Homo sapiens: one gene and its partners. The protein of the gene in region 1 purifies or fractionates together with the protein of each later gene. This does not show direct contact. Each region holds a gene or a part of one and is shown on either strand. Other genes may lie near its edges. The genes, in order: RAB11B, DNPEP, CHML and WDR44.

Region 1 (9,096 bases):
CATCCTAGGCCCCAGGGACCGGCACTGGGGGCCACTCTTGTCTCAGCTCTTCTATGGGGAGGTGTACAGAGCCAGGGCACTGGAGGGACCCCCATTCTAAATGGGGAAGATGGTATGTTTGGGTCCCCAAACAGCAACTGGAACAGCAGGCCCACTGTGAGGTCTGCCCAGGCTTGAGGGCTGGGAGCTGCCTCAGGAGCCTCAGCACAGAAAGGGAAGCACCAGGCAGGCCCCTTCCCTGGGGACAGGGGCCACCTTGTCCTTGGGCAGGGGAGGGGTGGACAAGACCCAGAGGACAGGGCCTGGGGCAGCTGCGGCCCGTTTCCCCCACGACCCATGTCCTCCAGGGCCAGGTGAGCCCTGATTGGCCAGGGCCTCTAGGGTAGGGGAAGGGCTCTGAGAGGACCTCAGTGGCCCTTGGGGACACAGCTGCAACCATGGAGTACCGAGTCCATCAGAAAAGAAATCTGGGGTCCCACGGCAATTAGTGGCAGGCTATGAAAATGGCCCATGGCTAAAGGAGAAAATGTTAGGAGGATAAATGTGAGGCTCTATAATTAGGTACAAATCAACAGTGTCATTCCTGGGGGAAGGAAAGAACATTCACGAAGGAAAACAAATGGCACACGGGGCATCACCCGGGGGATCTGCTGGCCTTGGCCGCTGAAGTCAAGGGAGCCAGTGCGTGATGTGGCCACCAAAAAAAAAAAAAAAAATGCAGAGGCCAGGCACGGTGGCTCATGCCTGTAATCCCAGCACTTTGGGAGGCCGAGACAGGTGGATCACCTGAGGTCAGGAGTTCAAGATCAGCTGGCCAACATGGTGAAACCCCGTATCTACTAAAATACAAAAATTAGCCGGGTGTGGTGGGTGCTTGTAATCCCAGCTACTCGGGAGGCTGAGGCAGGAGAATCGTTTGAACCCGGGAGACGGAGGCTGCAGTGAGCCGAGATTGCGCCACTGCACTCCAGGCTGGGTGACTAGAGTAAAATTCTGTCTCAAAAAAAAAAAAAAAAAAAAAAGAAAAGAAAAAGGAAAAGAAAAATATTGAAAGAGAATAGAGGAGGTCCTCTGATGAGGCACAGCTGTGAAGGTGAGACGGCAGATGACCAGTTTGGGAAAAGCTGAACTTGTGGGTTAGATTTTTGCTACCAACTAGCTTGAGAAGGTCAGCAGGGCACCTGCTAGACTCAGTAAAAGGAGGCCAGTGTGGGGAGGGCAGCAGGGCAGGCACCGCCCCCCCCCACCCCACACCGCCTGCCCGCCAAATGCCAGATGCCGCAGAAGCTAAATCAGTGTTTCCAGGAAGCAGTCTCTGCAGACAAGTCCCGGGAACCACACAGCCTCTCCATTGCTCCTGACCCAGTAACTGTTCTGCTGGGAACGCACTTCAAGGAAATAATCTAAAGGGCAAAACCATGACTTGAGCAAGCACTCGGAGCTGGGTCATTTAACACAGCAAAAGGGCAAAAATAACAAGCAGGGGATAACCACAGAAACCTGGATGGGGCATGTGGGGAGCAACACCCCTGCCCTGGCAGTGCCACGTCTGGGTGGGTGCCCAGCCAGGACCTGGGAGCAGCTGCCTCACGGTGGGCTGAGTGGAGATGGCACCCGATCAGCAGGACCCAAAGTTTAGTCCCCCTGTCTCCAGACGGCCCCTTAGAATCCCAGTCTCCAAAACCCTTCCAAAGCTTCCTCCTGCCACGAGGGGCGAGACCTTGGGCCGGGCACCTGCTGACCACAGAGCCTCACCCACCAGTGACATTATCAACCTGTGTGCAGCTGCCAGAGCCCTCAGTGCCACAGGACGACTCTAGGCCCTTGTAGAGGCACTTCCTCTCCCTCCCCCCGGAAGGCTTTCGCCACACGGACAGCCCAGGTGGGGAGACCTCTGCCTCATTCCCCACAATCAGAAGACGCTGGATGAGACCAGACACAAGGCCCAGCTAGGCCTGGTGCAAGCCACAGAGCACACTCGGAGGAACGGCTCAGCGAGGTGAGGATACCAACAGCTGATGTGCGACGCAGGCCCTCATAGAGCAGGCCGCAGGGTGAAGGCACCTTGGATCCAGGGGTTAGCCCTCAAGGGCTGCCATTGTCAGCCAGGGAGCCCAGCAACCAGGGCAGACCACTAGGCCAAAGTGTAGCTGGGCACAGAAGGCTCAGCTGAGAAACAAGGGACTCCGGCTTCCTCCAGCTGTCCCTAAATGGGCAATGGCTGCCTGATCTACCTAGGCCTTATGTGATGCTCCTAGAGCCCCCTCAGTCCCTCGGGCGGGGAAGACCCTCCAGCAGGCTGGCTGGGGCCCCGGCCATCAGTGCGCACGTGTTGGAAGAAGTTGGTCCAACAACCCAAAGTCCCAGATGCTGGCCACAAGCCCCCTAAGACACGCTTCCTAAGTGGTAAGGCCTACAGGTGGCCTGGGCTCAATCGGGTTCCAACACTTATAAACTGTGTCTTTGTCACTCTGGGCCTCAGTTTCCCAACGTGTAAAAAGAGAGGCTGGTTAGTATCAACCTCAAAGGGCTGCAGTGAGGATTTTAGTTAATTCGGGTAAAGTGCTCAGAAAAGTGCAAGTACTGGCTTAGCACTGTTGAGAGTTCTGAGTGAAGAGATGGAATTCTTGCTGCACACACGGGTGCCTTTCCACTCAATCCCAGCTTTGCACCCCAATCCAAGGCTCCCACCACCACACACCTCACCCCCAGGCCCTCATCTCGGCCCAGCCCCCATTGCCTGCCCCGCCTCTCCCGGGCCCCACCCCCAAACACGCTGCCCCAATCAGGACAAGCCTCGTGAGAGCCCCGCCTCCGTTTGCCCAGGCCCAACCCACCTATTGGTCACGCCCATCACGCCTTAGCCCCGCCCCTAAAAACCCCGCCCCCATCCCGAATCACGCTTTCAGCCCAGCCCGGCCCGCCAAATCTTGGGAAAGCTCCACCCCCTGCGGAGGCCCCGCCCTAACAGCCTCTCCCACCGCTCCGGGCCCCACCCCCTCTAGGCTCTGGCCCCGCCCCGGCGCGTCCTAGGTCCCCCAGGTCTCTCCGGGCCTCCGGCTCCGTATAGCCGCGCATCCTAGCCCGAAGCTGATGCTGCCCGGTCGGCTCCGGCCTTCCCGGCTGCCTGACCCGCCGGGCCCCAAGCCCCGGGCTCCGGCCTGGGCCCAGCGGCCTGGAGCGCGGCCTTGGCCCGTCTGCCCGCCGCCTCGCCGCCACGACTTCGCCCGTCTGTGCCCCACCGGCCGCACCTTTGAATAGGTAGTCGTACTCGTCGTCCCGGGTCCCCATTGTCCTGGCGCTTCCGGCGGGATCGGCGACTCCGCAGCCCCACCACAAACACCCGACGGGGGCGGAGCCGGCGCCGCGCAGAGCGGCGGTTGAATGGCCTATCAGCGGCGAGTGGAGTAGCGACGGGCACCCAGCGAAGCCAATCAGAGATGGAAGTAGTGCTCTGAGGGTGGGCGCCGCTTGGTACCACCCTCCTCGCCCTCGGTGTCCTGGAGAAAGGCGGAAGGAATGCGGACCTTTTTGAAGTGACGGACGCGCCAGCCTATCAGGGGCGAGCTCAAGAGGGCGGGGCGGAAGACTGCAGGAATGAAATGGATTGACAGACCAAATAACTAATGAGAGGCTTGATTGAGAACCTACCCGACTATCAGAGGACCTGTCCGGGAAGAGAAATGGGGCTACGTCCAGGTAATGCTACGATGCTTAACGTCCCGATGACGTCATAGGTCAGCGCGCGCTGCCCTGGTCGCCCCCCAAGCCCATAAATGACCATTTCCGGGGACCTCAGCGCTGGGTCCCCTTTCTCGGTTGCAGTCTCCATCTCTATATTGGGACTCACTGGGTTATCCTTCTGTGCCTCAGTTTCCTCCTCTGTAAACTGAAGAAACCCGTCTCATGGAATCTTTTGAAAATAACCAGATCAGCCAGGCGCGGTGGCTCACGCCTGTAATTCCAGGACTTTGGGAGGCCGAGGCTGGCGGATCACGAGGTCAGGAGTTCGAGACCAGCCTGACCAACATGGTGAAACCCCGTTTCTACTAAAAATACAAAAATTAGTCGGGCGTGGTCGCTGGTGCCTGTAAACCCAGCTACTCAGGAGGTTGAGGCAGGAGAATCGCTTGAACCTGGGAGGTGGAGGTTGCAGTGAGCCGAGATTGCACCAAGTGTGAATCAACCGTCCACTTTCTGCTATTCTTTGTTAAATAAATACTTTTAAATCCTTACTGGATACCAATGCTCTCCAACAGGACCTCCTACCACTACCCCTCTTTTGTCCTATATTTTGCCACATAGGTAAAATATAAAAATAGGTAATATAGAAAATAAAACACATACTGCTGTATTGTCAGGTAGTGATAGGATTTATCACTACCTGACAATACAGTATGTGTTTGTTTTATATATTTAGGGTGTACAGCGTGTGTTTTGATACACATGTACCCAGTGAAATAATAATTATGACAGTTTTTTTTTTTTTTTTTGAGACGGAGTTTTGCTGTCGTTGCCCAGGCTGAAGTGCAATGGTGTGCTCTCGGCTCACTGCAGCCTCTGCCTCCCGGGTTCAAGCGATTCTCATGCCTCAGCCTCCCGAATAGCTGGGATTACAGGCATGCACCACCATGCTTGGCTAATTTTTTTGTATTTTTAGTAGAGACGGGGTTTCTCCATGTTGGTCAGGCTGATCTCGAACTCCTGACCTCAGGTGATTCGCCCACCTTGGCCTCCCAAAGTGCTGGGATTACAGGCATTTTCACCACACATGGCCAATTATGAGAGTTAAGCAATTAACCTATCCATTGCCTTCCATAATTAACTGTGTGTGTAGTGAGAGTATCTAAAATGTACTTTCTTGGCAAATTTTCAATATACTATGCAAAATTATTAACACAAAGTATACGTTACTTTTTGTTTGTTTGTTTTGGCTGGCTGCGGTGGCTTATGCCTAAAAACATGCCCTTTGAGGAGGCTGAGGTGGGAGGATCACTTGAGGCCAGGAGCTAGAGACCAGCCTAGGCAACATGTCAAAACCCAGTCTCTCAAAAAAAAAAAAAAAAAAAGAAAAAAAGGAAAAAAAAGAGAAAAGGAAAAAAAAGAAAAGAACAACAACAAAAATTAGCCAGATGTGGTGCATCATGCCAGGGTCCCAGATACTTGGGAGGCCAAGGCGGGAGGATCATTCGAGCCTGGGAAATCGAGGCTGCAGTGAGCCATGATCACCCCACTGCACTCCAGCTTGGGTAACAGAGCAAGACCCTGTCTCAAAAAAAAAAAAGCCTTGCTTTCCTGACCCATTGATCTGTTTGTTTTTTGTCCTCTGTCAGCAGCATATCAGCCTGATGACATCAGGGACTGTATCTGTCCCCATCATTGCTGTAAGTTCCCCACTGCTGAATAAATACGTTTATTTATTCAGTGGTGAATAATCTAAGCCTAGAGTCAATGTACTAGTTATTAGAGCAGATGCCATTATCGCCTCTTGGATCTCATTCCCAGGGTGTTCATTGGGCATCTGTCAAAAAAACAAAATTACAACACATTTAGTTTAAAGATCTTAATTGATTTTATTTGCAATTCTACAATCGGGCAACACTTCATTTCACAAAATGAAACTAATTTTCCCATGAGCTGAGCAGGTAGGTTGGTTTTACAGGCAGAAAAAGGGCCAAGTAAAGCACAAACAGAAAATAAAACGTGGAGGTCAGGTGCAGTGGCTCATGCCTGTAATCCCAGCACTTTGGAGGCCGAGGCAGGCAGATCACCCGAGGTCAGGAGTTCGAGACCAGCTTGACCAACATGATAATGATGATGAAACCCTATCTCTACTAACAATACAAAAATATTAGCCGGGCGCGGTGGCAGGTGCCTGTAATCCCAGCTACTCAGGAGGTTGAGGCAGGAGAATCACTTGAACCAGGGAGGCGGAGGTTGCAGTGAGCGAAGATCACACCATTGCACTCCAGCCTGGGAGAGCAGAGCAAAACTCCGACTCAAAAAAAAAGAAAAAAAGAAAAGAAAACTTGGATTGGTCATTTTAAAGTTTCCTTTTGGAGTCTGAGTCTTGCTCTGTCACCCAGGCTGGAGTGCAGTGGTGCGATCATAGCTCACTGCAACCTCAACTTCCTGGGATCAAGCAATCTTCCCACCTCAGCCTCCTGAGGAGCTAGGATCACAGGTGTGTGCCACCATGCCCAGCTAATTTTTTTTTTCCAGAGACAGGGTCTTGCCTTGTTGGCCAGGCTGGATTTGAACTCCTGAACTCAAGCAATCCTCCTGCCTTGGCCTCCCAAAGTGCTGGGATTACAGGCATGAGCCACCACCGCACTCAGCCCAAAGTTACTTTTCTTGTAAAGGTTAAAGCAGAGAGGACATCCTTATCATGATGGCTAAAACTGACCTGGTGGGAGACTTGGCTATCCCATCTCTCTCTCTCCTGATTTTGTAGAAGGTCAGATAAACAACTTAGTTTCTTTTTGATCACGTAAAACTTTAGCATGAGTGACTCCATTTTGGTTTAGTTTGTTGGGCCTGGTGTAGGAAGTCAGTCCAAAGTAATAGCCTCCTATAAGTTTTGTATAACACATCCTGTGTCCAGATTGGTGGGTTCTTGGTCTTGCTGACTCCAAGAATGAAGCCACAGACCCTCCGGTGAGTGTTACGGTTCTGAAAGATGGTGTGTCCAGAGTTTGTTCCTTCTGATATTCAGACATGTCTAGAGTTTCTTGCTTCTGGTGGGCTTTTGGTCTCGCTGACTTCAGGAGTGAAACTGCAGACCTTTGCGGTGAGTGTTACAGCTCATAAAGGCAGTGCGCACCCAAAGAGTGAGCAGCAGCAGGATTTACTGGGAAGAGTGAAAGAACAAAGTTTCCACAGCATGGAAGGGGACCCAAGCACGTTGCCGCTGCTGGCTGCGGTGTCCTGCTTTTATTCCCTTATTTGGCCCCACCTACATCCTGCTGATTGGTCCATTTTACAGAGAGCTGATTGGTCCACTTTACAGAGTGCTGATTGGTCCGTTTTACAGAGTGCTGATTGGTCCGTTTTGACAGAGTGCTGATTGGTGCATTTACAAACCTTTAGCTAGACACAGAGTGCTGATTGGTGCATTTACAATCCTTTAGCTAGACAGGAAAGTTCTCTAAGTCCCCTACGCGATTAGTTAGACACAGAGCGCTGATTGGTGCATTTACAAACCTTTAGCTAGACACAGAGCGCTGATTGGTGCATTTGCAATCCTTTAGCTAGACAGAAAAGTTCTCCAAGTCCCTACTCAACCAAGAAGCCCAGCCGGCTTCACCTCTCAATCACCCCTCTAAACAGAACACCCCAACTGCTGTTGGGAATTTGGCCGATGACCACTCTAGCTACTTCCTGCTGGAAGAAGGGGCCCTGCAATTGTAGTGTCCTCCAGAGGGGAACTCTTTAGGCCAGTGGAAGGGCCAGTGGGTCGGTCCAGGGGTCCTCAGTAGAAGTTGTTAGTTGAACTCATTTGGGGTTCCATTTTTAAGACCATCTGTAGCTTGATGGCCTCGATTCTAGAAGAAACAAATTTGACAAGAAGGTTAAAAATGCAGGGCCCAAAGGTGAGTAAGAGCAAGATGGCTGCCACAGGACCTAGGGGAGAAGCCATGTTGCCCAACTCCAGAGGTTGGTATTAGAGTTCGAAAGGCATTGTCTGATTTCAGAAGCCTTTTCCTGTAAATGCCAGGTGGCATCTCGTGCTATCCCTGACTGTTTAGTGTAAAAACAACACTCTTCCCCTAAGAAGGTGCAGAGTCCTCCTTTCTCAGCAGTGAGGAGGTCTAGGCCTCAGTGGTTTTGGAGAGTTGCTGCTGCCAAAGAGTATATTTGGGATTGTAGAGTAAGGATAGATTTTGTTATTTCTTACAAACTGTCTGAGAAATCCTTTGAAGGTGTATGGTAGTAGAATAATGAAGTGGATAAACTGGCTATTCCGGTTCCTGTAGCAGTAGCCATTCCTAACCCTATAAGTAGGGATATTAGTTGTATGGCCCTGCGCTGATAGACTTGAGCTTTGAGGGGCACAGATACGGTCTGATTTCCATAAGATTAGAAGTTAGGATAATACATGTTACACTGTTAACTTTTTTAGCAAACTTTACTTTTGTTGAAAACCTTGTAAGTTTGGGATTTCAATTATTCTTTGCTATTAGTAAGACCTTGTTCAGTCCATATTAACTTAGAATTGGTATAGATGGCTGCTTCCTGATTCTGTAAGTACTTTAAGATTTGGCTGAGTGGAAACAACTGGCATGTTTGAGCAGACCAATTATTAGGCAATTTTCCTAACTCTGCATCTACAAGAGTTTCCTTATCACTTACTGAATACCCATTGTGTCTTTTTCCCTTAATCGCCTGGGAGGAACCATCTATCATCCTGTCCTGAAGGGAGTTCCTCCTAGATCTGGTCAGACCTTTGTATGGTAATTAATTAAGATTTAGATCTCCTGTTAGGAAACCTGCTGGGTTAAGGATTTTTGATAGGAAGGCTACAGGTTGTCAGTGGCCTCAGTGCTTTCCGGCTATGCCCTTGTTTACACTGACAACAAGGTGGTATTGGAGTGTTATAAGGTTACAGAGAAGACCTTCAATTATCAATTATAGGTTTTAAATTTACGCTAGGGTACACTTTTTTTTTTTTACTACTTCTATCTCCTTTTCTCTTTGACTTCTTCTTTGTCTCTGTCTCTTCCTCTCTGTCTCCTTCTCTTTGTCTCTCTGTTTCTTCCTCTCTTCTCTCTTTCTCTGACTTCCTGTCTCTTTCTCTCTTTCCTTTCTGCTGGTCTTTCCCTGCCTCTGCTAGCCACTTATGCTGCTGTTCTCCCCTCTTCTTCCCATTTTTGATGGCTTCGGCTGTGTAAGACTGCCACCTCCTTGGGTTTTTGCACTGTGTGCAATAACTCCATGGTTTCCTTGTGGTATTTAATGGGGGTTCCCCCAGAGGTTAGAAACTCCCTTTCTTTCCATATTGCGGCATGGGCATGTAGGATTAGGTAAGCATACTTGCTATATGTATACACATTTATTCTTTTTCCGTTTCCCAGTTCTAAGGCTCAGGTAAGTGCC
Region 2 (9,216 bases), on another chromosome or scaffold:
CTTTCTTAAAACATTATGAGATTTTTTTGAAAGGTTTTTAGCTCATCAGTTATTGTTAGGGTTCGTGTATTTTATTTGTGGCCCAAGACTATTCTACTTCTTCCAATGTGGCCCAGGGAAGCCAAAAGACCGGACACCACTGGTTTAAAGTGAGACCAGGCAGCGCGGCTTGGATGTTTCTCCAGCCACACAGGTTGGAGCAGGGGAGGAGCTGGTTGCAGTCAGGGTTGGGGTTTTGCCAGGCAAGTCCGCAAATCTAGAGCAGGAACTTGAAGGTGTGTGCGAGGGAGTGAGCACAACAGTGGAATGTATGGCTCATCCTAGGTAGGAGAGTCATGAAGACAGGAGTGAGGAATAGGGAAAGGTAGGATCAATAGTTTGTAGTTCTAGGCTGGACGCGGTGGTTCACACGTGTAATCCCAGCACTTTGGGAGGCCAAGGTGGGTGGATCACCTGAGGTCAGGAGTTCAAGACCAGCCTGGCCAACATGGTGAAACCCTGTCTCTACTAAAAATACAAAAAATGAGCCAGGCATGGTGATGCGTGCTTGTAATCCCAGCTACTCAGGAGGCTGAGGCAGGAGAATCTCTGGAACCCAGGAAATGAAGGTTGCAGTAAGCCAAAATAGCGCCACTGCACTCCAGCCTGGACAACAGAGTGAGACTCCATCTCAAAAAAAAAAATTTAACTGGGTGTGGTAGAGGGCACCTATAATCCCAGCTACATGGGAGGCTGAGGCAGGAGAATCACTTGAACCCAGGAGGCGGAGATTGCAGTGAGCTGAGATGGTTGCCACTGCCCTCTAGCTTGGGCAACAGAGCGAGACTCCGTCTCAATAAAAAAAAAAAAAAAAGACATATGTATCTTATAAACTCACACTGAAGTGTATGTAACTGACTTCTATGTTCACGCAAAAGTATTTGCACTTTAATATGTGTTAAACCAAAAAGATGAATGAATAATGGTAGCATTGTAAACATCAGCCGAGATCTTCCAGGGAAGATTTTCTCAGAAGGCCAAGGGCAAGAACGATTCTCAGAAACTTTTTCTTTCTTGATCCCTAGTCATCCCTTGACTTTGCCACCTGAACTCCAAATCCATCACCATTCCCTTACCCAGAGGTGACCATTATCCTTCCAAACCTGTTTCTATCCATTTACATATGTATTTATATAACATCTAGAAATATAAATTTAGCTCATTGTGTGAGTTTTATCTAAAGGCCCTCACCTTACATTCTAGAAATTGCTTTTTTTTTTCACTCAACAGTATATTTGGAATTCTTTTCTGTAACAATTCCTAAAGACTGACCTTTTTTTTTTTTTTATGAACTGCTACACAGCACTTTAAAATACTGTGTCTCAAGCATTCAAATCATCTAGGAATCTTGTTAACATGCAGATGCTGATTCTATAACTCTAGGGTAAGCCCTGAGGTTCTGCATTTCTAAAAAGCTCCCAGATGTTATTGACATTGCTGGTCAACAGATCACACATTTAGTAGCAAAGATGTACAGTACGGGTGGAATAGTGTGCTGGGGCCAACTTGGACAAGCTCATGAGAACTGATTGTCAAATTTCCAGGAATTTGGTGAGCTTGTTGTTAAACACAGCAATCATTAAAAAAAACTAAATTATATACACTTACAATTAAATAAATTATATTACAGATAATGAAAACCAAAAATCCATCACCTTTCCAAACATTTTACTGCCTTCTTAAATCTATGCTGTTGATGTTATTTCTATCCATTGTGTCTGCATGGTGGAAATCTACATAATGGCATGCTTCCGCACAGCTCTTCCCAACTCCCTTCAGTGACATCATCTCGACAGCTTGAAATCGGCCACGGGGAACATTTACACCACAGAAATTTGGGTATAAAGGTCTGTGCAAACATACCCCCAAAGTTCAGGGAAGCTGAAAAGCCGACGAAAGAGGCTGACATATACAGTCTCTCAGAAAGAAACATTTCATAGGGACTTATGAATAGAGGCCATAGTTTCAGAGATGAAATGGTGGATTACCCTGCAAACCCAGGGCTTACATACCATAGGGAAACAATGTGTCAAACAATTGAAGTTGACCCCTCAGGCAAAGTCATGAATGCTATGTGAATCTGTCTAAGCGCAGGATTTATGGTAATAGTAGGTAAAGTAGAAAACTTAGAGTCATTCCTGGAACAGGTTGTTGAAAAGTCAACATGGCAGATTAGCTTCCCAGATGGAGTTGCTTTAGCCTCCAGAAAATGCTTGCATTACCCCAAGCCTTCTCCAACACTTGATATTACCCATCTTTTCCATTTTTGTTAATCTGCTCAATAAAAAGAAAAAGTATCTCATTTTTATTATTTATTAATTTTTTTTTTGAGTTGGAGTCTCGCACTTGTTGCCTGGGCTGGAGTGCAATGGCACGATCTCGGCTCACTGCAACCTCTGCCTCCCGGGTTCAAGCAGTTCTCCTGCCTCAGTCTCCTGAGTAGCTGGGATTACAAGTGCACACCACCATGTCCAGCTAATTTTTTGTATTTTTAGCCAGGCTAGTCTCAAACTCCTGACCTCGTGATCCACCCGCCTTTGCCTCCCAAAGTGCTGGGATTACAGGCATGAGCCACCACGCCCAACTGTTATCTCATTTTTAACTTGCATTTTCCTGTTTAAAGTGAGATTAGGTGTCTCATATGTTCATGACTAGAAATTTAACAATATTTCTTGCTCTTGTAAATATAGCCCTTTTACTTTTTTCTTTTTTACCCAAACCAAAAATGGTCAATAAGAACCTTTTTACTTTTATATTTTCTAGGTGATTATTGTACAAGAAAGTCAGTGTTTTTTAAATTAGGCTACCCTTCCTACCAGTTCTAATAATAGCTTGATCGTTTATTTTCTTGGGGATTCTAGATAATCATATAATCTATAAATAATGACCAATTTTACTTTTGCACATATAGAATTGTTAATTTTGTTTTGTGGTACTGGCTCTGACTACAGCTCCACATTGTCTAGCAGCAGTAATAGCTCATCAATGTCTCACTTCTGATTTGAATAGGAACACTTCTGTATTTCCCTCCCAAAATGCTGGGATGACAGGCGTGAGCCACCACTCCCGGCTCACTTTCTAAGTTATGCATTTTGGTGATGTTTGAATCTCTTACTCAAGCATGTACTCTTTTCTGTGATCAGAAAGAACATTAAAGGTGGTTCCTTATTCAGGTTGTCTCCTTCCCTTATACATTGTAGCCTTGTTTCGGCCCTTTCACTGTCCTCCTTGAATGTGTCCCCTCCCCAGGAGGTAGAGGACAAGAATGCTCTCTCCATGTCCTGCTCAGCATTGAGCTTTATACATAATTTTATTTATTTATTTATTGAGACAGAATCTCACTCTGTCGCCCAGGCTGGAGTGCAGTGGCACGATCTCAGCTCACTGCAACCTCCACCTCCCGGGTTCAAGCGATTCTCTTGCCTCAGCCTCCCAAGTAGCTGCTGGGATTACAGGCACGTGCCACTACACCCGGCTAATTTTTGTATTTTTTGTAGAGACGGGGTTTCACCATGTTGGTCAGACTGGTCACGAACTCCTGACCTCAAGTGATCTACCCGCCTCGGCCTCCCAAAGTGCTGGGATTACAGGCGTGAGCCACTGCGCCAGGCCCATAATGGTATTTCAACAAACGGTTAGGGAATGCCATGAATTTAAGCCAGCACCTAGTGGGTGAATTCTTGAAAACTCCCCTGCCATATCTACTAGTTTGAAGTGAGGGCTGCAGGACCTTTCCAGCCTCTCCCCATCCCACCCTGTCACTCCCCACCCCAGGTATATAAACGGCAGGTTGCTCCATAAACCTGTGATCTCTGGAATTTTGTTTGAACCCCTGGTAGCTGGGCCCTGTTTTGGATCTAGAGGCCACCAAGAGTCCTGATCAGTTCCTGCAGCTAGGAAGGTGCATGGGGTTTAAACGTGCTACTCACTACTCCTGACATGGGAATACTGGAACTGCCAATAATGTGGAATTTGTTTTTCTGTTGTTTTTAACAAATGGAAAGGGCACAGATATCAGAGTCAAATCCCAGATCCACCCAAACAGCTATGTGATCTTGGGCAAGTCAACTTCTGTGTCCCTTGTGGACCTCCCGTGTAACATAACACTTACCAAAGCGCATAGAAAAAGGTCCAGAAAAGATCTGAGAGAAGGCTGTAGGGTTGTTCCAGGCCTCTGCAATCAAACTGATGGAGTTCAAACCCCACCTGTGCCGTTTATTACCTCGACGGATCACTAGTCTCCGTATCTCAGCTTTCTCTGTTCATGCATAAACTGGGGACAGTAAGAGTACATAGTTGATGGGGCAGTTGTGAAGATTAAACGAGGTAACAGGCCAATCTTTATCATAAAGCTAAAGCTCACCGTGAGCGCCCCATGGACATTAGCCTTATTGCTTTTATTGTCACAAAGGTGGCTGTGGCGAGAGACAGCACTTTGTACCGTACCCGTCGGACCCGGTGAGCTGGAGGGGCGAGCTTTTTATTGGCCTCGAGGCCCGGGGCACGGGGAGGCGGGCCGTCCGCGGCTGTCCTAGCACCTCCGCGGCAGCAGAGGGCCCTGGCGGCGGCTGCGGGTCGCGCGGCGTGGGTGACGGGGGTGCAGGGCGGGGCCTAACGAGCAGCCCCCGCAGGGGCGGAGACGAGGGCGGGCCGGAGGCGGAGGCGCGGCCTGGAGAGGGATGGGGCGGAAGCGGGGCGGGCGGTGCAGCCTAGCGAGGGGCGGGGCGGACGAGGAAGCGTGACGAGCGGCGGGGCGGGTGGAGCAGCCTGGCGAGGAGCGGGGCGGGGTGGGCGGCACGGCCTGACAAGGGGCGGGGAGCGCAAGGAGGCCTGACGAAGGGCGGGGCGGAGCAAGGGCGGGGGCAGGGCGAGTAGTGGGGTACAGCGAGGGCCGGAGCGGATGGGGGAAACCTGGTGAGGGGCGGGACAAAGCGGGGAGGGCGGTGCAGCCTGGCGAGAGGCGGGGCGGACGAGGAAGCTTGACGAGGGGCGGGGCGGGCGGTGCAGCCCTGCGAGGGGCAGGGCGGGCGGTGCTTCCTGGCGAGGGGCGGGGCGGGGCGGGCGGTGCGGCCAAGCTAGGGGCGGGGCAAGGGCGGGGCAAGGCGGGTGGTGGTGCCCAGCGAGGGGCGGAGCGGACAGGGTAAGCCCGCCGAGGGGCGGGGCTGACCGAGGTGGGCGGGGCGGATGCCGAGGGGCGGGGAGAGGTGGGCGGGGAGGCCAAACATGGGGCGGGGCGGCGCGGCCGGGGAAGCGTGATGAAGGCCTACGAGTGCGGCGCGGCCTGAAGGGGCACGCGGGGGACCTGCAAAGCTAGTGAGGGGCGGGGCAGGCGGCGCGGTGGGGGCGGGCCGAGCCCGGAGGCCAGATGAGCGGACACAGCCCCACGCGCGGGGCCATGCAGGTAAGTGGCTCCCGACGGCCCCACTTGAATTTCGATCCCAGACCGGGTCCGGCGCCCTCCGGGGCCCAAGCTTAGCGCGGTGCTGCAGTGGGGCCGCCTGACCCAAAGCGAAACCGAAAGCCCCGCGGAGGGTGACCTGACGACTTTCCCGGGACTGGAAGGGGGAGTCCTGCGAGAGACTAGGTGGGTGCGAGAGAGGAGTCAGGGTGCTCCTTGGGGTACAGGGCTTTGGCTCCGGGCTGGGTACGCGCACGTGATGCAGGCCGCCTCAGAGTATGGGGCCCGCTTGGGATCCCGGAGTTTGGGAGCAGAACAGGATTTCCTAGCTGGGCAGGGACATGGGGGCGGGACTTAGGGAGTCGGGCTAAAGTTCGGATTAAGGGGCGGGCCTGGCTCATGATCCTGGGCCGGCGGGCTGAAGCTTTCAACGGAGTTTCAGCCCTGGGTTTGGGTCTCTCGGTGGGGACGGGCGGAAGCAGAGGTCTGTGCCTTAGAGTGGTCACTTCTGGGGGTGGGGATGGGAGAATCCTCGGAACCTGGGTGAAAGGTCAGGGGTCCCAGACCTTGTAAAAGTCTGAGCATCCCCCTCCCCTAGGTGGCCATGAACGGTAAGGCCCGCAAAGAGGCGGTGCAGACTGCGGCTAAGGAACTCCTCAAGTTCGTGAACCGGAGTCCCTCTCCTTTCCATGGTAAGCGGTGGCCAGGGCAAGGGAGGAGGGTGGAGGCTGATGCGCCCTTCACCAGCTTCCATCGCTGTGAGAGGGTGCTTTTCCCACAGCTGTGGCTGAATGCCGCAACCGCCTTCTCCAGGCTGGCTTCAGTGAACTCAAGGAGACTGAGAAATGGAATATTAAGCCCGAGAGCAAGGTACTGGGGGTGGGGTGGGGGTGGAAAGGCAGGTCCCTAGGCTGGTCTCCAAGCCCTGTGTGCCAGCTGAGTAATGCAACTCACACCCCTGTCTTTCCTCCCCTTCTCCTCAGTACTTCATGACCAGGAACTCCTCCACCATCATAGCTTTTGCTGTAGGGGGCCAGTACGTTCCTGGCAATGGCTTCAGCCTCATCGGGGCCCACACGGACAGCCCCTGCCTCCGGGTAAGGAACTCGGACGGTGTTGGGGTGGGAGGAGATGTCAGAGGGAGTACAGGGCAAAAGAGAACTAGGAGGTACAAACTGGGGCCTCTATCCCCTGGAGTAAGGGAGAAGGTAAACTTGTTGGCCCCTTCCTTCACACCTTGAGCCTTTCATGTGACACTAATATTCGCTGTCTGTTACTTATGAGTAGCCAAAGTCTCATCTCCACATATCGTCATGAAGCCTTCTCTGACTTCTCCATCTTTACACTCAGGTGAAACGTCGGTCTCGCCGCAGCCAGGTGGGCTTCCAGCAAGTCGGTGTGGAGACCTATGGTGGTGGGATCTGGAGCACCTGGTTTGACCGTGACCTGACTCTGGCTGGACGCGTCATTGTCAAGGTGGGAACCGAGGTTGGGGATGGCGGAGCCTCCTCAGAAGACTGACTGCCACACTCCTCAGGGTACCCGTGGGGAAGAGGGGTGGGGGCAGTCTGGTCAGAGGACCACCCTGCTTAGTCTGAGTGAAGTAAAGACTGACCACTGGGGTAGGAGGCACCCTGGGCTGACCTGGCCTGGCTGGCTGCAGTGCCCTACCTCAGGTCGGCTGGAGCAGCAGCTGGTGCACGTGGAGCGGCCCATTCTTCGCATCCCACACCTGGCCATCCATCTGCAGCGAAATATCAACGAGAACTTTGGGCCCAACACAGAGATGCATCTGTGAGACTGGGGCAGGGCTGCGGTGGCTGGGAGGGATGGAGAATGGTACCAGGTGATTATTACCTAATGGTAGCCATTAGGTCACATTTTACTCTTGGGACCCAGTTAATTTCTAAGGGTCCTCACAGCCTTGTGATTTGGGGAGTGGGCTGGGAATTGAAGGGCAGAGGCAGTTGCCCATCAGGAGGCACCTGAACTTATGGATGCCGCACTCAGCTGTGCCCTCCTCGCAATCCCCCCACAACCCACGTCTCCCCACAGAGTCCCCATTCTTGCCACAGCCATCCAGGAGGAGCTGGAGAAGGGGACTCCTGAGCCAGGGCCTCTCAATGCTGTGGTAAGAGAGTCTCCTGATCATGGGGAGGGCGGCAGAGTCCCCTGAGAAGTGGGGAGGAGAGGAGGAATGGACTCTTCCCAGCATCTTTCTGCTCTTCAGGATGAGCGGCACCATTCGGTCCTCATGTCCCTGCTCTGTGCCCATCTGGGGCTGAGCCCCAAGGACATAGTGGAGATGGAGCTCTGCCTTGCAGACACCCAGCCTGCGGTGAGGACTGGCTGTAGGAACCTGTGGGTGAAGGGCCTCCAGGATCCTGGCCACCCCTAGCCCGTCCTGCTGAAGCACCCATCACCTCCACCAAGCCCTCAGTAACTCTCATCCCCGTTTTTCCCAGTAGACACATCCCCCACTGCTTCTAGGGCGGTGGTTCTCAAAAAGACAAGTTCCCTACCCCAGACCTGCCCACTAGGACTATCTGGGAATTGGCCCTTTTTACAGATTCCCAAAGAGTTTCTTCTACAGGTGGGCCCTGTCTGCTTTGACCCACACTGACACTGAACTGCTTAGGGAAAGAGGCCTGGATGTGGCCATCTGTTCTCTGTCTCCCGGTTGCTGATGGTCAGAGATTGCTAAATCTTTGGATGCTGTGTCCTGCTTGAACACGTACTAAGTTTCTGTTTTTTGGCTGGTTTCCTCTGTTTACTTCTTTGGCCTTTTTGATGACAATTCAGCCCTTCCTTTTCTTGACCCACAGGAAGAGGTCAAGAGCTATTGGCCTCCACCCTTTTGTTCCTCAGCACCAACCCAGCCCCCTTCTCCAATCTCTGCTTGGTCCTGCCTAGCAAGGAATCCCAGCACTTTGGGAGGCTGAGGCGGGGGGAATCACATGAGGTCAGGAGTTCGAGACTAGCCTGACCACCATGGTGAAACCCTGTCTCTAATAAAAATACAAAAATTAGCTGGGCCTGGTGGTGCATGCCTGTAATCCCAGCTACTCAGGAGGCTGAGGCACGAGAATCCTTTGAACCCGGGAGGCGGAAGTTGCAGTGAGCCGAGATCGAGCCATTGCACTTCAGACTGGGCGACAAGAGCGAACCTTCATCTCAAAAAAAAGAAAAAACAAAATAGTGCCCTAAGCCAGGGGTCAGGGAGAGGTTGCGCAAGAAACCAAGGAGACCCTTGGGAGCAAAAGAAAGGTGAGTGGGGGTGGAGGGTTGAAGGTCGGGCTGACTGTCTTACCTCTCTAGGTCTTGGGTGGTGCCTATGATGAGTTCATCTTTGCTCCTCGGCTGGACAATCTGCACAGCTGCTTCTGTGCCCTGCAGGTGAGGAGCCGGGGCGCCCCAGGCAGCACATAACCACCAGCAGAGGTGGTATGTTTGGGGTCGGGGGAGCTGCCTAAAGCCCCAGCAGGTTGTGAGAGAGGGCCATTGTCTACCCGCTCAGTCTGCTGGTGCTGGATGGACCAGGAGGGGGCCCTAAATGTTGCAGCCTCAGCATCGCCACCTTTGGTCTCTGCCCTTGCACTATCAGGGTGTTGAGGCAAGAAGAAGGAGGAGAAGTTGTTTCAGGCACCATGGTCTCTTGTCCTAGCCTTGCTCCTGCTGCTTTTCCTGAAGTTAACAACCTCTGCCTCAGGGAAAGGCTTTATCATCCACAAGGCAGTATCATCCACCTCCTTCTGCTTCCTACGCCACTCCCCAGGCTT
Region 3 (8,168 bases), on another chromosome or scaffold:
GGGATCATATAATATTTGTCCTTTTGTGTTTGGCTTATTTCCCTTATCGTAATGTTTTCAAGGTTCATCCATGTTGTAGCATGTACTAGAATTTCATTTCTTTTAAAATATGGCTGTATAATATTCCATTGTATGTATATATCACATTCCATGTATCATTCATCTGTTGATGGGCATTTGAGTTGTTTCTATTTTTTGGCTATTTTGAATAATCCTATTATGAACATAAGTATACAAATACCTGTTTGAGTCCCTGCTTTCAATTCTTTTGTGTATATACCTAGGAATAGGATTGCTAGATCATATGGCAATTTTTTTTGTTTTGAGACAGGGTCTCACTCTCTTGCCCAGGGTGGAGCGCAGTGACACGATCACAGCTCACTGCAACCTCAAACTCCTGGGCTCAAGGGATCCTTCTGCCTCAGCCTCCTGAATAGTTGGGTGAGACTACAGGTATGTGCCACCACACCCAGCTAATTTTTTATTTTTTTCTGAAGAGATGGGGTCTTACTATGTTGCCCAGGCTGGTCATTGTACTCTTGGCCTCAAGTGATCATCCTGCTTAAGCTTCCCAAAGCACTGGGATTACAGGAATGAGCTCACAATAATTCTATGTTTAACTTTTTGTGGAACTACCAAATTGTCTTCCACAGGAGCCACACCATTTCACATTCCCATCAGCAGTACGACAGGGTTCTAATTTCTACACATCTCCACACAAAAACCAACACTTGTTTTTGTGTTTTGTTTTGTTTTTTGATGATAGCCCTTCTAGTAGGTGTGAAGTGGTATGTCATTGTGGCTTTGATTTGCATTTCCCTAATGACTAATCACAGTAAGTTTCCTTCCATGTGCTTTTAGGCCATTAGTATATTTTTGGAGTAATGTCTACTCAGATCCTTTGCCTATTTCTGAATTGGGTTGTGTGGAGTTTTTTGTTGTTGAGTTGTAGGGGGTCTTTATAATATTGATGCCTTATCAGATATATGACTTGCAAGTATTTCTCCCATTTGCTGTGCTGTCTTTTCACTCTTTTGATAGTGCCCTTTGATGCATAACAGTTTTTAATTTTGATAAAGTCCAATTTAGCTATTTTTCTCCTGTTGCCTGTGCTTTTGGTGTCATACCCAAGAAGTTTTCTTCTAAAAGTTTTATAGTTTTAGCTTTTACATATAGGTCTCCAATCAATTTTGAGTTAATTTTTATATATGATATAATGTAAGGCTCCAACTTCATTCATTTGCACATGGATATGCAGTTTTCCCAGCATCATTTGTTGAAAAGACTGTCCTTTCCTCCTTTCCCCATTGAATGGCCTTGGCATCCTTGTCAAAAATCAATGGACCATATATGTAAGAGTTTATATCTTGGCTCTCTATTCTATTCCATTGGTCTACATGTTTGTCCTTATGCTGTGTATTAGGCTGTTCTTGCACTGCTGTAAATACCTGAGACTGGGTAATTTATAAAGAAAAGCGATTTAATTGGCTCACAGTTCTGCAGGCTGTACAGGAAGCATGGTGTTGGCATCTACTCAGCTTCTGGGGAGGCCTCAGGGAGCTTTTACTCATGGTGGAAGGCAAAGTGAGAGCAGGCATCTCACATGGCGACAACCAGATAGGGAGAGAGAGAGAGAGAGAGTGGGATGGCGGAGTTGCCACACACTTTTAGATGACCAGAGCTCACTTATCACAAAGGGGATGGCCCAGGCCATTCATGAGGGATCCGCCCCCTATGACCAAAACACCTACCACTAGGACCCACCTCTAATATTGGGGATTATATTTCAACATGAGATTTGGGTGGGGACAAACATCCAAACTATATCATGCTGGTGTTTTTCATTTGTTTGTTTTTTGTTTTTTTTTTTAATAAAAGATTGTAGTGTTCTGCCATTATCCTGTCATTACATAATTCTAAAATTAAAAAAGAAACATATATCCTTATCATTGCCTGTTTCTGTCAAGCTCAATAAATGTCCTTAATGGTTCATAGTATTGTAAAATTACTGTGTCAAAAATGCTTAAGCATTTGTCAAAGGCCTCTTACTCCTCCTTTGCATTCACTGCTAGTAGGCATTGCCCTGGACTTTACTCTGATTGAGTAAAAGCCAAAGTCCTTTTATTGAAATGGCCAAGGTCCTGCATATTCTGGCCATTCACTGCACACCCACCTGACTGGCTGCATTTCCCGATTCTCATTCTTGCTTCCTTATTGTTCCTCCAACATACCAATACAGTACTCCTGCCCATAACCACCTTGTCTAAATAACAACCTTGACAGAGCAGGTGCATCACCATCATGGACAAGCACTGCCATTTTAAAGTTCCCCTTGATCAAAAACCACCTAAATCCAAACAGCATCAGCCTAATGGCTAAGGTCAGCATGACCATACACCACAAATGACATCTCCGACCAGAAACATTCCAACCCTAAGATAAACCCCTCCCTGACCAGAGACATGCGAGCCCCGAGATAACCTCCCCTCCGACAGAGACATTCCAACTTGGCAATAAACTTCTTCTCCAAACAGAAACATTCCACGCCTGTGATAAGCTCTCTCACTCTAAAATCCTTAAATACTCTTAGTCTGTAAGAGAGTGCTCCTGACCGAAATCGGCCAGAAGCCCCTCTTAGGTTTATTCTTCCAAATAACACTGTCTGACTGTTGAGCTGCTATTAGTGTTTCTTTCCTCTTTCTTTAACTCTTACAAACTCCTTGCCCCATCTCCCATAGCTCCTGGCTCAACCTCCTGAGTAGCTGGGACCACAGACATGTACCATCTTGCCTGGCTAATTTTCTATTTTTTGAAGAGTTAGGGGGCAGTTCTCACTTTGTTGCCCAGGCTGGTCTTGAACTCCTGGGCTTAAGAAATCCTACTGCCTCGGCCTCCCAAAGTGCTGGGGTTACAGGAATGAGCCACCACGCCTGACCCCTATTTCTTCATGGCATTTGTCAGTGGCTGACACCCTACGTATTTATCTAATTTTTGTTTGTTCTCCCAACACGACTGGAATGTGAGCTTTATAAGGGCAATGACTCAGCAATGAAGAATGAATAGGAAAAAATATAGCGAGTTCTTTATTCATTCATTCAAATTACTATTTATTGAGAACTTACTGTAGACTAGACACAGAAAACACTTTCGACATTAAACATATAGAACTTGTTAAATAGTTATGTTTTGTTCAGTGGTTGTACAAATCTAAAATTAACAATTAAAAGTGTGTGTGTGTTTTTTAAGGGGTGGGTGGGTAGGAAGTCTCACAGATGGCGAGTCCAGAGCAGAAGCCTTGAAGGAAAATCAAGGTGTCAAAGGCAGAGCACACTGCCCCTTAGCTATTGCTCAGTGCACCAGGGTGGAGAGCTGCTGCCAGCCTATTAGATCCTCTCTCCAGGGAATTCAGAATGTGGATTGATCCAAGCTAGTCATTCCCTACTGATCTTTCAAACAGAGGTGAGGCACGCCCGTATGGAGAGCAGTTTCTTTAGCTTGCACAAACCCTGTGTTCGTCACCAGTGTCCAGGACAGGCTGCAGGTGTGGCTGGGGACTGTGATCTTCTTGTAGGGCCTCCTTAGGGATTGTGCAACCACAAAGGCAGAAGCAGCTCTTGCAGAGTGTGATGACGTTCACAACCTATATTTGACTTGTACTATATTCTCATCACTACAGGAGAAGAGGCCCAATGGGAAATGTGTGCTGTTCTAAATATAGCACCTGCCTCCTATACCTGCTAGATTTAGGTTGAATCTTTCACTGCCTGTGAAGGACTTTAGCAGGCCTCAGTGACCGGAAAGATCTACCCACGCTTTCAAGCACAGGAAGGACGGTATTGGAAGGCCTTGGGGTCCAGCCCAGGGCTTAAAGTCAGTTCCATTGGAATGCCATTTTCAGAGAGTTTTCATCCCAGACTCTCCAAGGGTGGCAGGCTCTTGTATCAGCCCTGGGACATGTGTCCTCTAGCAGTCAGGTAGTTAGGCAGGCACCTGTCTATCAATTTGTTGTTTTTCTTCTCAGTTTTCCGGTAAGACTACCCCGAGCTCTTCAATGTTTTCTTTGCTTTTGTTTACATTGAGTGTATGACGCGGGATGGGCTTCGTAGGCTGGTTGTGGGTTATTACAGCTTCCCAGGAAGGGGAGAAACCCAATTCTTGCCAGCACGTGGTGGGCGCAGGCGCTCATAAATACTTAGGAATAAATGAATGTATAAGTGAGTGCATGAATGGGTGAGTGGACACGAAGCTTTCAAGGTGGGTGCAGGGAGGTGGGGGTGTGAAGAGCCATCGAGGCTACCCTGCGGCCCTGGCCCCCAGGCTATCCCGCGACGCGCGTCCACGCCGACCAGCGGAAGGTGCCCAGCCAGTGGGGGCGGGGCGAGCTAGCCGCGAGGACGCGCCCGCGGGGGGGCGGGGCTAAGAGGACGCGCCGGGAGCAGCGGAGCGACGAGGACAGGCCGCGGGGAGGGGCGGGGCCACGGGGGGTGCGCCGGGCGGAAGGGGCGGGAAGAGGGCGGGCCCGGCGCGCGGTAGCGCGGGCCCCTCAGTGCACAATGGCTAGAGCAGGCGGCGGAGCCCCAACCCCACCCAGTGCGGAGCGCGCCGCGAGCCCCGCCGCAAGCTGAGCGCCTCCGCCCGCCAGGCGCGCCGGCGCCGGGCCATGTACTCGGGGAACCGCAGCGGCGGCCACGGCTACTGGGACGGCGGCGGGGCCGCGGGCGCTGAGGGGCCGGCGCCGGCGGGGACACTGAGCCCCGCGCCCCTCTTCAGCCCCGGCACCTACGAGCGCCTGGCGCTGCTGCTGGGCTCCATTGGGCTGCTGGGCGTCGGCAACAACCTGCTGGTGCTCGTCCTCTACTACAAGTTCCAGCGGCTCCGCACTCCCACTCACCTCCTCCTGGTCAACATCAGCCTCAGCGACCTGCTGGTGTCCCTCTTCGGGGTCACCTTTACCTTCGTGTCCTGCCTGAGGAACGGCTGGGTGTGGGACACCGTGGGCTGCGTGTGGGACGGGTTTAGCGGCAGCCTCTTCGGTGAGTTGGACTGGGAGAAGGCAGCCTCCCCTCTGCAAACTTCCACTCCCCACCCCGCTGCCCGCTCCGTGCGTCCGCCCCCCAGCCCGCCCCGCACCGCTTCCCGCTCGGCCCCGCGCCCCCCGCCCTACACCGCCCCGCTCCCCGCTCGCCTCCTCAACGCTGCCCGACCCCAGCCGCATGGCGGGTGCCTTCCTCTTCCTCCGTCCCCTCCCGCCCCACGCTGTCCAGGACTCCATTCCTGTGGTCTCTCATCTGCCCCCCACGTTGACCCCAAACCCCGGCCCGCCTCCTTTCTTATTTGTTTTTACCTCCTAAGATCACTCAACAAGGCACGAAACCACGGCTTTTTACACTTTGAGGAAAGAGACGAGGGCCTGTAGAGTCAAGAGATTCAAGAAAAAAAGTGATTAACTCGTGAAAGTTGGAGGGAGTGATGAGATTAGATTCATGTACTACTATTTGTTTCCTAAAATGAGAGTAGAAAACCAAAATAACAATGTGTAAAAAAAAATTCTCATTAGTACTTGTAAACCTTTGAATGCTTTCTAGGGAATGAGACAGTTTCATTCAGGTCCTCAGAATGCAAATTGGCATGTGCCCTGTAAGCTGTTTTTACTATTTTCCGTCTTATAGATGGGTTCCAGCACACCAGAATCTTGGGTGAGATTACAAATGGCTCAGCCAATACCATCTCAGGTGAACAAATACTGTAATTAGCTCTGCAATCGGTAGATTTCATTAAAGTAGAACTTCATTGTTGAAGATGTATTTCGACAGTACTCTTATTATGGAAGATTTAAGTTTCACTGAGACATGATGTTTTGAAGGATGATCAACAACTCAGCAAATCATTGAAGGAAGCGTAGAAAGGAAATTATTTTTTTGTGTGCCTCAGGAATTTCATTTGTAGGGAGATTTGAAATAGAAATGTGTATTTCTCAAGGCTTAAAGTTCCTTTTTTAAATCCTGAAATCCATTGATACTTTATTGCTTTAATCTTGGTAGGTTTGGGAGAACAAAAATCTTTGTAGAATTATCAAAAATATTTTCTTATTCAGTAACCTCTATGCTATGACAAACCCAAATATTATATTTGTAATGATTCATTTTTTGGCGTTTTGAAGGAAATAAGAAAATAGATTTTATTTGATTGCTTCAGAGGTTATAATATTTTCCTCCCCGCCCCTCATAAGCTTTAATCTGATAATTTCATTTGAACAAACATTTGAAATTTAGGGAGGGGACTGCAAGTGTATGTAGGCTGTGGTATGGACGACTATGGGATTACACTCCTTATATTAATTGTAAAATACCTATCAGGCAGTTTCTTCGGCAATGCTAAGAAGGTTATTCAAGCCCAAGCCTAAAGTATCATCAGTAGTGTTCTCCAGGGTAGTCAACAGGTGTTTGTTCACAGACATCAAAGTTCTTTTTTCCTTGAAGTGCCTTTTCTGTGCTGGAAAATTCTGTTTTCGTGCCCGGGAGTTTGAACACAAGGGTGTACTGAGTTCTTTATAAGTGCTAGCTGTCATCCACCCTCTTCCTCACCTCTTTCCTCTGCTGATCCCACCCTCCTGTGTCTCCTGGTCACTTCTCCCTTCCTGTTTTTCTTCTTCACCATCCCTCCTAGGGTCCCAGCCCAGTGATTTTCTAAGTTCACTTAGATTTTTGCCTGAGGGCTGCCCTATTTTTCAGGGCATTTAGTGCTTTCAACCATGACTTTCTCCCTGTTTTTAATGTAGAGGTGGAAACCCTGAGATAAGAGATTCCGAGACTTAAGCCCTGGGGGGCAAGTTAGTAGTGAAGTTACTATAGAGTTTAAAAAGTTTTTAGCGAAGATGATTTCTTTGCCTGGAGTAAATTCCGGAGTTTGTGCTTCTAGATCCAGGTTAAGGATGAAGAAAAGGAGGGCACTTCCTGAGTTATCCCTGAGCAAGAACTACCTAACAGTGGAGTATTGAAGGGGAGGAAGTTAAAAATGAGGGAAGTAGCTTCTTGATGCAGAGGCTTTTGGAGAGGCTTGCCCTATCTGTTGGAAAGACCATTGGTCTGATGGCACAAGAGTGGATCCTGTTCCTTATCCTGCGACTCATGCATTGTGCGGGCTTTCTCAAGTCACTTAATCTCTCCAGCTATCAGTTCTCTCATCTCTATTATTGGGTAATTCAGCTTAATGCTCTGTAAGGCCATCCTACTTGCTTTGCATTTTGATGACCCCTTTGATATCTGTAGGTTAGAACGTGCCTGATCTTAGCGCTTATTGATTGTGTCTTCTGCTCCTACTCCTACCCTGAGCCCTGTCTTTCTAAGCCAAGAAGCAGCATGTACTATGGTTACACCTCTTCAGATACCATCATAGATTCAGTCTCCATCTTCACACCCTGCTGGAAGAAGCAGAATAAGTAATTCAGACATACTTATATTTATACTTGAGTGGGCCAGGCAACTGCTGCATTCTGTACTTAGTTCCTGGCTTCTTAGGGAATGCCAAAAATGAGTGGAATCCTTGATATTTTTGAGACAGAGGCTTTGACTAGACAGGACTGTTAGGATTGCCATTTTAGTTAAACTAAAGGTGTGTGCCCTATGCAATTTAATCTAAGTTCCAATTGAATGGCTTGTTTTTCCAGTATCCAGGATTATTAGTCATCTTGGGCTAGACAGGTACAGCTTGTACTGATTTATATTTCAGTAGGTTTAACAGTAGTGAAAACCAGAGCTCAAAACTGTGCAATGATGAATATTAGAAAGTTTAGCAGTATTGTTGCTTTAGCCTAAAGACTTTCAGGTGAGTATGCTCTTCAGCACCTTGGCCTTTCTACCTCTGGCCACACAGGGCATCACACAGATGTCTTCCGCACATGGAATGTAACCAGCATTATGCTCAAAGTTAACAGGAGAACCTTATTATTTTTTTTTTTTTAAACTTCCCCTTCAAAAATAAGAACAAACAGTGTTAGTCTTGGCAGAGGATGTTTAGATAGACCTTTTGCTTGGGATGCAGAGATTCAGGGTTGCAGAGACAGTGGCGAAATGCAAACATCACTGTATTCAAATGTTAGAAGTAGGTATTATTTATGTTAAGATATTTTAATATGAAATCAGAAGTTTTCCTTTTTTACTTACACTTAC
Region 4 (4,602 bases), on another chromosome or scaffold:
GGCAGGAGAAGTGCTTGAACTCGGGAAGGTGGAGTTTTCAGTGGGCTGAGATTGCACCACTGTACTCCAGTCTGGGTGACACAGCAAGACTCTGTCTAAAAATATATATATATGGCAGGCGTTGTGGTATGTACCTGTAATCCCGGGTATTTGGGAGGCTGAGGCAGGAGGTCTTGAGCCCGGGCAACATAGAAGACCAGCCCGGGCAACATAGAAGGACACCCAACTCAAAAAATATATATATGATTCTTTTTTAATTTTTAAATCGATTGCATAATAGTTTATTGACTGTATTGTCTCATGCTACAGATTACAAACAGGTCATAAAGCCACAGGAATAGATACAGTGTACAAAGAGTGCTTCTAAAGTATTTGAATGGTAAAAAGTTATCAAGTACTTTAATCTCAAGTAATTTTTTTGTAGTATTATTTGGACTATCTACTCCACTCATGACACTTTTCCTTCTGTCTGTGAAGAAAAATTTTGATAACAAAGATGAACTTCAGTCTAGCATTTCTTTCAGTACAAGATACAAAAATAAACCAAGTTAGAATGATTAAACCTTTACTAAATGCCTGTTTAACTGCTGTCTGTTTTCTTTTTCTTTCCTTCTCAGAATCACATCCAGCTTCTGTCTTCTAACTTAAGTCATTTACGTTTTTTCTTTTTTTTTTTAACTTATGAATGAATGAATGAATGAATGACATGGTGTCGCTCTGTTGCCCTGGCTAGAGTGCAGTGGTACAATCATAGCTCACTGCAACGTTGAACTCCTGTGCTCAAGCAATCTTCCTGCCTCAGCATCCCGAGTAGCTAGGACTACACGTACTACCATGCCTGGCTAATTTTTTTTTTTTTTTTCTTTTTGCTAGCAATGAGTTCTCGTTATGTTGCCCAGGCTGGTCTCGAACTTCTAGCCTCAAAAAGGTTAGTCCTACTTTGGCCAAAGTACTGGGATTACAGGCATGAGACATCATACCTGGCCTTTTTTTCTTTTCTTTTCTTTTTTCCCCAGTGCTACCTTTTTACATTCCATATACTTCCCCTGCATATTCCACAGGAAATTCTAGCTTTTAAAACAATTTGAGGAAAAGTAAAAAGTACAGGGTTTTTTTTAACTTCTCAAAAATATACCACATTAACAAGGTTCAGTTAACTAACTGGGTCCTTTTTTAAGAGGCACAAATTTTAGTGGATTGTACTCAGATTTGTGTTTGTCATTTTGTACCCATGTAGGTGTAGTCTAAGAATAAGCTCTCTTAAACCCAAAATGTGGGATCACAAAATATATTCAATTCCCCTCTCTCTTTGTTCCTGACGTGTTTGGCAATTCAAGCCTCAATTTTCCTTATGTGTAAAATAATGATGATAACCTAGTTTATAGAGTTTCAATAAGAATTAGATATGACATGTATAGGCTGGGCATGGTGGCTCATGCCTGTAACCCCAACATTTTGGGAGGCCAAGGCAGGAGGATCACTTGAGACCAGGAGTTTGAGACCAGCCTGGACAACATAGCAAGACCCTGTCTTCACAAAAAATTAAATAATTAGTCGGGCACAGTGGCGCATGCCTGTAGGGAGGCTGAGGTGGAAGGATCCTTTGAGCCCAGGAGTATGAGGTTACAAGAAAGCTATGATGGTGCCACTGCATTCCAGCCTGTGCAACAGAGTGAGACTCTATCTAAAATATATATATATATATATATATATATATATATATATATACTTGTATGTGTAAAAGTGCCTAGCAAAATGCCTGGCATGTAGTAGGCATTATTGTTATCATTTTCATTATTATTGTGTCTTACAAAGCATTTTATATGTATGGTGAATTATTTTCTTCTCTATCCTTTCTCATATTCCTAAGTTCTTTGCTGCTGCTACTACTGCACAGCACTGCTGTGAGATATGCCAAAAGGGTGGTAAAGGAATGTTCAAAGGCTTAGGATATGTTTTTAGCACATCTAAGTGAAACCATTTTGTGTGACTCATCCTGTCCACAACTTTCCAATTAAAGTTTGGATTATTTTCTTCTTTTTTAAATCTCAAATTAAAATCTCAGTTTTCACCTATGTATAATAGAGTTAGTTAACACTGAATTTTTTTATTAAGTGCTTTTATGCAACTGGCAAATGTAAGAGGTAAGCATTTATGCCATTCAGCATAGTTATATAGCTTTTCAGTAAGGACCATATGGCAAAAGGTGCTGTCAGCATTCACACAGCAAACGTGTGTACTTCATTTCATGGCAGTTTCAGTATGTCTGCTATACAATAAACCTTACTGGCAACCTCGCTAGACACCCCTGTTAGCAACAGACTTGCCCAGCTGATCCGATTCTGCCAGCACTCCAGTCCTGGGGCTGAATGACACACTAGCTTCTTGCCATGCAATGAAGCATTAGATGACTTAGATGCCTAGGCTGCCTAGGAATAGGTCCAAGCATCCAGGCCCCAAGAGACTGTAATATCCTCAAGCCAGGGAAAGACCAGCTAAGACAAGGTAAGTGAAAGTGAGCCTCAGAGCAGAGGAGAGATTCAGCAGAATGAAAGAATTACAGGAGCCAGCCAGAAAAGGAGACTGAAAAGGTGGGGAGATGATCTTCTCCCCTGAAGCTGGAGGGTCATGGGCATGTGATAATTGTGGCAGCAGGCTTCATATTCCTTTAAAAATCAACTTAAAACTATTTTTTATACTTTTAAGGTATTATGAAGACAGATAACACAGAAGTTCTTCTCTCTGCTGACTTCACTGGAGCAATCAAAGTGTTTGTTAATAAAAGAAAAAATGTATCTTAATTTGAAATGGCATTTAAAATAAACATATCAGTAAGTTTCTATATGTATCAAAACTGAAAAAATAGTGTTCCAGGCTAACATACTTTTTTAATTTTTATTGAAAGTTGTTCAAATATAATATATTTTTTGAGAGGCAGTGTTAATGATCTAGGAAACCCTGGGCTGATAGAGTAGAAAGGAATATGGCTAGAATAACATTGCCAAACATTAGGCTTTATGTTTTGTTATGTTTGTGTTTTCGTTGTATAATTATGAACATGCACAAGTTTCTGCATGAAAAGATATTAATATATTAATCACATGTATGTGCCTTTTGGTTACATGCATTAAATCTAACAGAGTTAAATTATTTCAGTGGCTCTTTTGGCCTCTTACTAGGGGGGATAGTCTTGTTTCTAGCTTAAACAATTTTTTTTTTGCACAAAATTTCATTTTTAATAAAAGTGGTATCTTTTGACTGAGTTATTGTTTTGAAAATGGTATATAGGTTTCCAGTAGGTCAACAACCATATGTAAATGGTTTTTATAAATTTCTCAATTTGGGGACAAGATTTTTTTGTGGTCTAAATTGTGGGCTTAAGATTCTTTTCTTTATATGTGTACATATAATTTTTTTTTCTTTGCCACACTGGAGCACAATGTTTCTATGTAAAGAATTATTTTCATTCTTTATCCATGAGCACCAGGCTTTGCTCACTTAAAAAAAAATTAAGCCACATTAAGGAGTGAGTCTTCTTTTTTACAATAATGTAAAAATTAAACTGTTTACATTTTTTTAAAGCATTGTAGTTTTTAAAAATTAAGCTGTTTTGTTTTGTGTTGTTGAATTTGAAAGCCTTTGTAAATATCAATATAATGTACCAATGAAATAACATCTGGGGCAATGAAACCCTGATCATGTTGTTGATGGTTAGCATATGTTTCTGAAAATTAAATATGTATTATTAAAAGTTGGTCTCCAACACTTGTTTAAACATGACTTTATTTTTAATTGACTTCAGTAAATCAAGGAATGCAAGAAAAATAAACTCTTGTTTTAATCATTTAAATTTTAGCAACAGAAGACCAGATTTTAGATCCCTAAATTATAATGCATTAGTTACATGCCTTAAAATTTTTTTAATTCTAGCTTTAAATTGAACAGTGCTAAGAATTCATCTATATGCTTATATGTTCTTTACTGCATTTGTTTTCAGCATGTAAGTGAGAAGTTGGGGAGCCACGGACATATCCTTGTTGATTAGCACGGTCTTAGAGTGTTCTAGGCTTTCTAGTAAATTACATATTATTTGTTGCTTTCTTCTTGCCAGTGCTGTGCTTTCTCCCTCTACCCTTCCCCCTCCCCTCTCCTCATCTCTCTGGTTGCTTTGGCTTCCTCACTCTCCTGTACTCTCCCTGACTGAATTGTTATGCCATTGGCTTTCTAAAAACCAGGCACAGTTTCTTTAATCTCAAGGTCTGGGTGGCATTGTGATTGATCCAGTGTTTCTTTTTAAAACTTGATGTCTTCAGCTCTTTGAGGCAGCTTGGCTTTCACTAACTTCTGCCTGAGAACTTGTAGTCGGCTGTGGTGTTGATTGTTTTAACTGCAGATAATCAGGGTATTATTATATGACTATCTCGTGATAGGTTTTATGTGGTTACTTGACCAAAAAGACAAAACGAGTTGGGATGCAAGCTTAAAAGCATAATACTGGCCGGGCGTGGTGGCTCATGCCTATAACCCCAGCACTTTGGGAGGCCAAGATCACCTGAGGTCAGGAGTTCAAGACCAGCCTGGCCAACATGGTGAAACCCCATC

What was found.
Region 2: the proteins of RAB11B (region 1) and DNPEP purify together in Homo sapiens (affinity purification with mass spectrometry; 4 studies listed by BioGRID and IntAct, with this or other methods). This does not show direct contact.
Region 3: the proteins of RAB11B (region 1) and CHML purify together in Homo sapiens (affinity purification with mass spectrometry; 4 studies listed by BioGRID and IntAct, with this or other methods). This does not show direct contact.
Region 4: the proteins of RAB11B (region 1) and WDR44 purify together in Homo sapiens (affinity purification with mass spectrometry; 4 studies listed by BioGRID and IntAct, with this or other methods). This does not show direct contact.

What each region holds. Positions count from the first base shown.
Region 1 is NC_000019.10:8,384,612-8,393,707, reverse strand, and holds the start of RAB11B (ras-related protein Rab-11B), read right to left. Parts: upstream 3,349-9,096; 5' UTR 3,292-3,348; coding exon 3,252-3,291; exon of another isoform or gene 3,017-3,251; intron 1-3,016. UniProt on the Homo sapiens protein: The small GTPases Rab are key regulators of intracellular membrane trafficking, from the formation of transport vesicles to their fusion with membranes.
Region 2 is NC_000002.12:219,383,983-219,393,198, reverse strand, and holds the start of DNPEP (aspartyl aminopeptidase), read left to right. Parts: upstream 1-5,286; 5' UTR 5,287-5,404; coding exon 5,405-5,440; exon of another isoform or gene 5,441-5,623; intron 5,624-5,836; exon of another isoform or gene 5,837-5,921; intron 5,922-6,035; coding exon 6,036-6,129; intron 6,130-6,218; coding exon 6,219-6,307; intron 6,308-6,420; coding exon 6,421-6,534; intron 6,535-6,787; coding exon 6,788-6,913; intron 6,914-7,100; coding exon 7,101-7,231; intron 7,232-7,492; coding exon 7,493-7,568; intron 7,569-7,667; coding exon 7,668-7,775; intron 7,776-8,755; coding exon 8,756-8,833; intron 8,834-9,216.
Region 3 is NC_000001.11:241,636,747-241,644,914, reverse strand, and holds the start of CHML (rab proteins geranylgeranyltransferase component A 2), read left to right. Parts: upstream 1-4,545; 5' UTR 4,546-4,660; coding exon of another isoform or gene 4,661-5,033; intron 5,034-8,168. Other genes in the region: OPN3 (opsin-3), read left to right, coding at 4,661-5,033. UniProt on the Homo sapiens protein: Substrate-binding subunit (component A) of the Rab geranylgeranyltransferase (GGTase) complex. Binds unprenylated Rab proteins and presents the substrate peptide to the catalytic component B.
Region 4 is NC_000023.11:118,446,187-118,450,788, forward strand, and holds the end of WDR44 (WD repeat-containing protein 44), read left to right. Parts: intron 1-2,706; coding exon 2,707-2,801; 3' UTR 2,802-3,775; downstream 3,776-4,602. UniProt on the Homo sapiens protein: Downstream effector for Rab11 which regulates Rab11 intracellular membrane trafficking functions such as endocytic recycling, intracellular ciliogenesis and protein export.